2 separate regions of the Homo sapiens genome follow, and region 1 is linked to region 2. Evidence: fine-mapped expression QTL. A gene starts in region 2. The other region holds a variant in brackets. All regions are shown on one strand. Distances are between the middles of the regions. Region 1 overlaps GNB1 (G protein subunit beta 1). Region 2 holds the start of CALML6 (calmodulin like 6).

The links. PIP is the estimated chance that this variant, and not a neighbour inherited with it, causes the effect.
Region 1: its variant is the best candidate, but not a certain one, in a credible set for the expression of CALML6 in liver (GTEx, PIP 0.57).

What each region holds. Positions count from the first base shown.
Region 1 is chr1:1,799,545-1,803,928 of GRCh38, reverse strand. All of the region lies in intron 7 of GNB1 (G protein subunit beta 1), which reads left to right. Among named protein-coding and RNA genes, the nearest start is that of NADK, 23 kb to the right of the region's middle. RefSeq lists an enhancer at 4,298-4,347. The variant T/C (reference allele first, on the strand shown) is at 2,149.
Region 2 is chr1:1,912,908-1,917,291 of GRCh38, reverse strand. CALML6 (calmodulin like 6) reads right to left here and starts at 2,032. Exons shown (of 6, transcript NM_138705.4): 1 at 1,985-2,032; 2 at 1,557-1,607; 3 at 677-851; 4 at 396-540; 5 at 218-318; 6 at 1-145. The coding sequence starts at 2,011. The coding sequence ends at 99. RefSeq lists an enhancer at 2,525-3,211.

The DNA.
Region 1 (4,384 bases), 110 kb after region 2:
CTCACTGCAACCTCTGATTCCTGGGTTCAAGCGATTCTCCTGCCTCAGCCTCCCAAGTAGCTGGGACCACAGGTGTCCGCCACCACGCCCAGCTAATTTTTGTATTTTTAGTAGAGGCGGGGTTTTGCTGTATTGGCCAGGCTGGTCTTGAACTCCTGACATTGTGATCCGCCTGCCTTAGCCTCCCAAAGTGCTGGGATTATAGGCGTGAGCCGCTGCGCCCGGCCTTATGAATCATTAAATGAGACTGGTTCAAATAAAAGTCACAGTAATGGCCAGAAGTTTTCTGAAAATGAAACTAAAAACAAGCCTGATATGCCTTTACCAGTAAGAAACCTGTGGATTTGCGCTGGACATGGTGGCTCATGCCTGTAACTGCAACACTCTGGGAGGCCAAGGTAGGAGGATAGCTTGGAGCCAGGGGTTCGAGACCAGCTGGGGCAACAAAGCTAGACCCCTTCTCTACAAAAAATGAAAAACAGCCACGCACAGTGGCACACAACTATGGTCCCAGCTCCTCAGGAGGATGGCTCAAGCCTGGGTGGTTGAGGCTGCAGGGAGCTATGATTGCACCACTGCACTCCAGGCTGGGCGAAAGCGAGACCCTGTCTCTGCAAATGAGGCATAATAGAGCCCTGTGGCCGTAAGTGCTAGGTAGTCTATTATTTCACCAAGATTTTATTTACTTGTGACACTAATTCATCATGAAAGGCATACATTTGCTGAAAGAGGATGTACTATTCTAATATTTTACCTCTCTGGCTGTATTATTTGTTCTCAGACATTTTATGCCCCAGTACTTTTTGATAACACTCCGCCCACTTCACATGCAGCCAAAGAAATCAGTTCATGGAGTCACTAGTACTACAGTTGACACCCATTAAGCAGTCTGTTAAATAAGTTAATTTTGGCCAGATTACAAGTTTAACCTTGTCCTTTGAAAGATAATGCTGCTGCTGTTGTTGATTTCTGTTCTCTGTTCTTTTCTGCCTTCTGCTTACTTTGGAGTTGCCTTCTTAATTTTCCAGCTACCTGAAGTAGATCTGTAGGCCACTGGTTTGCTTCCTTTTCAAATAGAATCACTTAAAGTTTTAAGTTTCCCTCTAAGCATGGCTTTAGCCACATCACACACATTTGTTTCATATTGTCTTTTTTTTTTTTTTTTAAGATGGAGTCCTGCTCTGTCACCCAGGCTGTAGTACAGTGGTGCAATCTCAGCTCACTGAAACCTCAACCCCCTGGGTTCAAGCGATTCTCCTGCCTCAGCCTCCCGAGTAGATTACAGGCGTGCACCACCACGCCTGGCCAATTTTTGTATTTTTAGTAGAGACGGGGTTTTGCCATGTTGGTCAGGCTGGTCTTGAACTCCTGACTGCAAGTGATCTGCCTGCCTCGGCCTCCCAAAGTGCTGGAATTACAGGCTTGAGCCACCACTCCCAGCCTATATTGTATTTTAATTATCATTCAATGTGAAATTTTTAATATCCTTGTGAGTGCTTATTTGACTTATAGGTTATTTAGATGTATAATTTTTACATATCTGAAGTTTTCTTAGTTATTGTTGATTTCTAATTAGATGTCATTGTGCTTAAAGACACACTTGGTATCATTTCAGTCCTTTGACATTTGAGGCTTGTTTTTAATGGAGCTGATGGTCTGTCATGGTGGCCGCGCTGTGTGCACATGGGAATGATATGTGTTTTTGTTGTATCTCGGCCTGATTTTCTACATACATGTTAATTAGAGCAAGATTTTTGGCATGTTCAAATATTCTGTGTCTTTCTATGAAATGCTCATGCAGGGCTGTTAAAATGATTATGGATTTTCTAACTTTCCTGTTAATTCTGTCAATCTGTGCTTCAGATATCTTGAGCTCTTTTAGTAGATGCCTTTACATTTGTTGTCTCTTTGTGATTAATTGACCCTGTGACCCTGCTCTCATGATGAACTGTTCTTTCTCACTCATAATGCTCTTTGTTGGGAACCGCTGCTTTTTCTGATACTAATGTAGTCAGTCCTGCCTTCATGGGGGTCCTTTCAGCTTAACTGTGTCTTTGAAAATAGTCTGTTACAGACCTCGCATCATTGTTGGGTCTTGGTTTTTTCTGCCCGCCTTTGGAATATGCTTTTGCACATTTATATTTCTTA[T/C]TGTAACTCTGCTACTTTGCCACCTTTTTGTCCCTTCATTTTTGTTTTTTGGTTGTTCCCTTCCTACCTTCCTTTGAGTTACTTGATTACAGGCATGAGCCACCACGCCTGGCCTGGGTTACTTGATTTTTTAAAGAAATCTATTTTACTTTGTCTGTGGGCTTTGTAGGTAAACCATTTTGCCTGATGTCTTAGTGGTGTCTTTAGGGATTATAGTGTACATTCCCAATGTCTCGCGGTCCTCTAGTTAACTTGGTCCTAGTTGATAGGAAACGTAAGGAACTCACAGCCACACGGGCCTGCTGTCTGCCCTTGCTCACTCTTGTGGTTTTCATATGCATCACACCTGTGTGTGTTATTAGCTCCATGATGCATTGTTGTATTCTTTACTTTAAACATTCTTAAGAAATTAGGGGTCTTATAATGTGAATAAATATGAAAAGCATGAAATAGGCTGGGCATGGTTGGCTCACGCCTGTAATCCCAGCACTTTGGGAGGCCGAGGCAAGCAGATCACCTGAGGCCAGGAGTTTGAGATCAGCCTAGCCAACATGACGAAACCCCGTGTCTACTAAAAATAAAAAAATTAGCCAAGCATGGTGGCATGCGCTTGTAGTCCCAGCTGCTCAGGAGGCTGAAGCAGGAGAATTACTTGAACTGAAGCGGAGGTTGCAGTGAGCTGAGATCACGCCACTGCACCTCCAGCCTGGGTAACAGAGTGAGACTCCGTCTCAAAGAGAAAAGAATGAAGTAAATCTACTCTGCCCTCCAGAGAGATCTTCCATGTCCAGTGCCCTTCCCGCTCTCCTGCAAAGGCGCCTTCTGCGGGCGTCCTTTCGGCCGGGAGCCCTACCCGGAACAAGTCATGGTTAATGCAGTTCTCAGGTCTGCTGCTAGCAAAGCACTTAGTGTTCATTTCTCTAAGATTTATATTTTGCCTTTATTCTTGAAGGGTATTTTTGCTGGATATCTAGAATTATGGGTTGACTCTTTTTTTAATTTATTTTTCTTTTTTTTTTTTTTTTTTAACAATCTAAAGATTTGGTTTTTAGCAGTTTGCACGTAGGTGCCTCGGTGTGATTTTCTTTGCATTTATTGCACTTTGGCATCTTGAATCTATAAATTTGTCTTTCACCAAATTTGGGAAGTTTTAGACCATGTCTTCAAATGCATCTTCTGTCCTTAGTCCCTGCCCCTCTGTGCTGCAATACACACGCATCTGTGCTGTCCCCGAGGCTCAGGGGGCTGGGGTTTGTTCATCACTTTCCCACTTCTTCAGATTTGTTCCTTTTTGTTGTTGTTAGCACCACTTACTTGCTTTTAACCTTTTTATTTCCATTCAAGTTCATGTACTTGTTACCTCTGATAAACTAAGGCTATCCAGCAGGTTCTTTATGTCAGATATTCCTTCTGCAGTTGTAGAGTTTCTATTGCTTTTATTTAGAAATTTTTTATTTTCCTGCTGAGATTCCCTGTCCTTGTATAATAGCATGTTTTATTTTGCATCCACAAGGAGAGTTTAATAGCTGCCTTTAGAGTTCTTGTCTGCTGATCCCAGCATCTCATCTTCCTGAGGTTGGTCCTTGTGGATCTCTCCTCTGGATTCTGAGTGACATTTTGCTATTTTTTTAGTACATGTAGTAATTTCAAATTGTATTCTGGACATTGTAAATGTTGTGTCATAGAGACTTTGTGTCCGGTTACATTCTCCAGAACTAACTGATGTTTAGTGTCATTGTATCAGGCAGTCTATCTCTGTCTTTCTTGTGTGGCAGCAGCAGAAACCTCTGTTCAGCTTTTCTGCGCTGGCTGGGCTGCATGCCTGTGCACTTCAGGTGTCGGATATCTGGTCAGCCGTGTGTGTAGTTTGGGACTCCCTTTCTGTGGCTTTCTTCTTTGTAGTTGTTATCCTTTCGCTTTCTGGCTGTGGTTGCCCAGTAATCTGTCTACTGGCTCTTGAAGACCTTGGCCACAGGTCTTGTGTGTGAGGCTGTAGCCCTGGGGTTGTCACAGACAGTCCCCTCCTCAGAGAAAGCTCCTTAAGAACAAACCATGTCCTGCCTTTCTTTTCTCCCAGGGGAGACTCCTCCAGTTTCTACCTGCTCCTGTTTTCATGCTTTCAGGTGTTTCGTTTTGTAGTTTGTGCAGTGCTTATAGTTGTTTCTGTGAGAAGGTAATGCCTACAGATAGGAGCCCCTGGCCATCGCTGGGAGTCCAGCCAGGCAGCTCACACTGA
Region 2 (4,384 bases):
CTGGAACATTTATTTTACACGGAGCCGGGGGAGTGGGGGCCAGGGGGCAGGGGCAGCAGCCTTCCCGGGCAGGCCTCCCCCGGCTGCGGCAGCTGCACCTACTGGATCAGCTTGAAGGACTCCCCCGTCATCATGGCCACAAACTCTGGGAACAGAGGGGCAGGTCAGCAGCTTGCCCCGGCCCAGCCAACGGCTCCCAGGGCTCCAGGCCACTCACCCTCATAGTCGATGGTCCTGTCCCCATCCTTGTCGGCCTCCTTCATCATCTGCTCCGCCTCCACCTCGTTGAGGGGCTCCCCTGCGTTCATTAGCACGTACCTACGGGGCCTGGCGCTGAGCCACTCCATCGGCCCTGCCCGTGCCCGCCCACCACCCGCCCCCAACCCGGGCCCTACTTGAGTGTGTTCCAGTCAATGTAGCCCTTGCCCTCTTTGTCAAAGACACGGAATGCCGCCCTCAGCTCGCTCTCCTGGTTCTGGGCCTTCTCATGGTAAACTCCCATTAGTGCCAGGAAACCATCGCAGTTGAAGAACCCTTTGTCTGCAAGGGGCACAGCTGGGGCTCAAGGGATGGGGCACAGCACTCCCCATGGGCTTTGCCTCTTCCCCCCGTAGGCACTGACACCTGACCCAGGGCCCCCCCGAGGCTGCCCACCCCACTCCAGCCATGAGCTCACTGTCTCTGTCCACATCCTTGGCCATTGAGGCCAGCTCACTCTTGGTGGGGTTGATACCCAGCAGGCTCATGAGCCACTCCAGCTCCCCCGTCTTCACCTCCCCGTTGCCCTCTTCGTCGAACATCTCAAAGACTCCCTTGTACTCCTTGATCTGCTCAGCCGACAGGCGCTCTGTCTGCAGGGGACACCCGCACCGGCCTGACCAGGAGCCCCTTCTGCCCCTGTGTCCAGGGAAGGGTCAGAGGTACCCCCTGCACCCATTCCTCCATTGGCAGCCTTTCAAGGTGAGTGGTAAGAGAGGAGGCCCCCAGCGGAGAGCAGGCTTCCAGGACAAGGGGTCACACGCCAGGGGTTTGCAGGGCCAGCAGGGCTCTGCCAGGCAGCTAACAGGGGCAAGGGCCAGACAGGCAGGAGCCAGCGTGCGAGGGAACAGCAGCAGCTGCAGGGCCAGGCGGGCCAGGCAGCGGCCCTGGAGCCTGGCAATGGACACCAGGTGAGGCAGGTGAAGGAAGCCGAGAGCAGGGTGGGGAGGAGCCCAGCCCTGGCCCGGGAAAGGCTTCCAGCCCAGGATTGGGATACAGCCCAGGAAGCAGAACCCTGGGCTCCAGCCTGTGTGGCATTCCGGAGGGAGAGTCCAGCACCGGGCCACACCTGCCTGCCACCACTGCTGCTGCCCATCTGGGAGCCAGCTTTCAGAAAGGGCTGCTCCACCCTGGCCCCGGAACAAGGGCTGTGTTGGTGGCAGCAGGGCTTGGCCCCCTCTTCTACCTCAGCCCCTTCCTGCCCAGGCTCCGTGGCAGGTCATTGCACCTCCAGGTTCCAGCTCAACCTACCCAGCCAGCCCACCAGAGACTCCATCGGGCACAGAGAGCAGCCTTACCATGTCGGTGGTTGTCTGACAGGATTCTGCAGGGTGGTGACACCAGGGCTGCTGTGGGCAGAGTGCTGGGGCAGTGGTGGCAGCTGAGTTTTAGCTGGGCCTGGCTGCCTGGGGTCCCCGGGGTCCAGATTCCAAGAGCCTTTTATGGGTGGGAAATCCTGCCGGCCCTATTTTGGGACAGGCTCTCGGCCTTATCCACAGGGCCCCTTCCCGGCCCGCTTTGGCCTGGGCTTCCCCTGACCCTGAAGATGGGCACCGAAGGCTAAGTGCGGGGGCCAGGAAAGGGCTGAGACATGGCGGGACCCTCACACACGCTGTTCCCCGTGCTGTTCCCTCTTCACTGGACCAAGCTCCAAGTCTACCTTCCCAGAGGTGCGGCCCTCCAGCAGGTCTTCATGGGACCCTGGTCCCATGCTGTCATCACTTACCAGTGAGATTTCTTGTTGAAGACCCATCCTGGCCAGCTGGTGCTCAGTGGCTCAGAGCCTGGCCACCCTCCCATCCTGGTGGACTCAACATTGGCCCCGTGCCAGCATGTCACAAACTCTCAGGACAGGTCGAATGAACAAATGCATGAGGCACCGCTTGACCATCTTGTACAGGAGGGGCTGAGGGTCCACCATTCAGGGAGGAGACAGCAGGACATGGGCTGGGGGTGAAGGGGGAAAGGGAGCAAAACAGGGCCTGGGGGCTGGGCTGCCCGCTGGAAGCCAGGCACAGTTGGGGGCTATTTTGGGGTTTCTCAGGGAAACCTGATCTCCCTTCCACTCAGAACAGCAAAGCTGGCTCCCGAGGGGGCCTGGTGCCCAGGCTGGTCCGTATCAACATGCCACCGTGGAGCACACGCCTGCACACGTGTGTTCCCTCCTCAGACCCGCACTGAGCCCTCCCTGTCTGGGTCTAATTACCCACCAGACTCCCAAAGCCAGGGTCCAGCTCCTCCCTGCCCCACCCAGGCAAGAGTGTGAGGATTGCAGTGGCAGGTCAGGGCCCTCAGGGTCACACTCACACCTGCCCCCCGACTGGCCCCTTGATGGCATGAAGAGTCTGAGCAGGTGGGGCACTCAGTGTCCCCCGCCAGCCCAACCCTCTGCCTGCCAGCAAACCTGCAGCTACAGGATGGCTCCCGCTGAAACCCAGGCCAGCTGCTGAGACTGCAAGATTGACGCTGACGAGGGCAGGCCAATGGCCCAGGGCACCTCCAGCCAAACGGGAGCCGGGGCTGGAGGGAAGCGGCCCTGGGTCTGGTGGGGCCAAGGGAGGCCCTGACCTTCATCCTGGCTGCTCCCTGGCCTCAGCTTTCCCCTGGGCTGGGGCAGGGAACAATTCACGCACTGAGCACCTTCCCCCAGGGGCATAGAATGGAGGGAGCCGCAGCACCCAGGCCAGGGCCCATCCTGGGTTCTGGCTCAGGGTCTCCAGGTACAGGCCAGCTGGGTACAGAGACACAGAGAACTGCACTGGCCTCGTGGCCCTGGACAAGTCCCCACCCCAACAACTCTCACAGCCAGTGGACAGCAGGCTCTGCCTCCTCCGTTCCCAGGCTTCCAGCGTCTGACATTCCTGGGCCACAGCCCTGAAGGTTCCAGACATCCTGATGGGCTTACGAGTGAAACTCAAAGCTGTGACCCCTGGAGCCCAACTTAAAGCAGAGGGCACACCCCCCGCCCCGCCCGTAGGAAGGGGCAACATGGCCACAACCACCATCAACCTCTCTCCTCTCCATCTAGGCTTCTACCCATATCCAAGACCCAGTACAAGCAGCAGAACAGGTCCTCGCCCTCTAACCCTCTCTCCTCATGCTGACCAGCCTCTGTGTGGCCTTCGGACATACCCCGTATCTCTAGGACCTGAGACTCATCCAATCTTTATTTTCCTTCTTGTGTCTCTTCTGATCACCGAAGGGCTATTCTCCATAAGAAAACAGAAAAAGAGGCTGGGCACGGTGGCTCACGCCTGTAATCCCAGCACTTTGGGAGGCTGAGGCGGGCAGATCACGAGGTCAGGAGATCGAGACCATCCTGGCTAACACAGTGAAACCCCGACTGTACTAAAAAAAATACAAAAAAATTAGCCAGGCGTGGTGGTAGACACCTGTAGTCCCAGCTTCTCCGGAGGCTGAGGCAGGAGAATGGCGTGAACCCAGGAGGCAGACCTTGCAGTGAGGCGAGATCGCGCCACTGCACTCCAGCCTGGGCAACAGAGCGAGACTCCATCTCAAAAAAAAAAAAGAAAAGAAAAGAAAACAGAAAAAGAGAAAAACCCTGTAACAATTAGAATGCTGCCTCAGCCACGTTCAGGTGCAAGTGCAGTTGTGTTCATGGCCGTACCCAGTTATGCAGCAGATCTCTAGAACCTTTCACCTTGCAAAACGGACCCCCGCCCCCATTAAACAGCATCTGCCCTCTTCCACCACCCCCCGCCCCCCAGCCTATGGCAATCACTATTCTACTTTCTGTTTTTAAGAATTCGACTCCGGGGGCCGGGTGTGGTGGCTCACGCCTGTAATCCCAGCACTTTGGGAGGCCGAGGTGGGTGGATCACAAGGTCAGGAGTTCAAGACCAGCCTGGCCAAGATGGTTACACCCTGTTTCTACTAAAAAAAATAAAAAAATAAAAAAATTAGCCGGGCGTGGTGGCAGGTGCCTGTAATCCCAGCTACTCAGGAGGCTGAGGCAGAGAATTGCTTGAACCTGGGAGGTGGAGGATGCAGTGAGCCGAGATTGCGCCACTGCACCCCAGCCCGGGTGACAGAGTGAGACTCCATCTCCAAAAAAAAAAAAAAGAATTCGACTTTTTTTTTTTTTTTTTTTTTGAGGCAGAGTCCC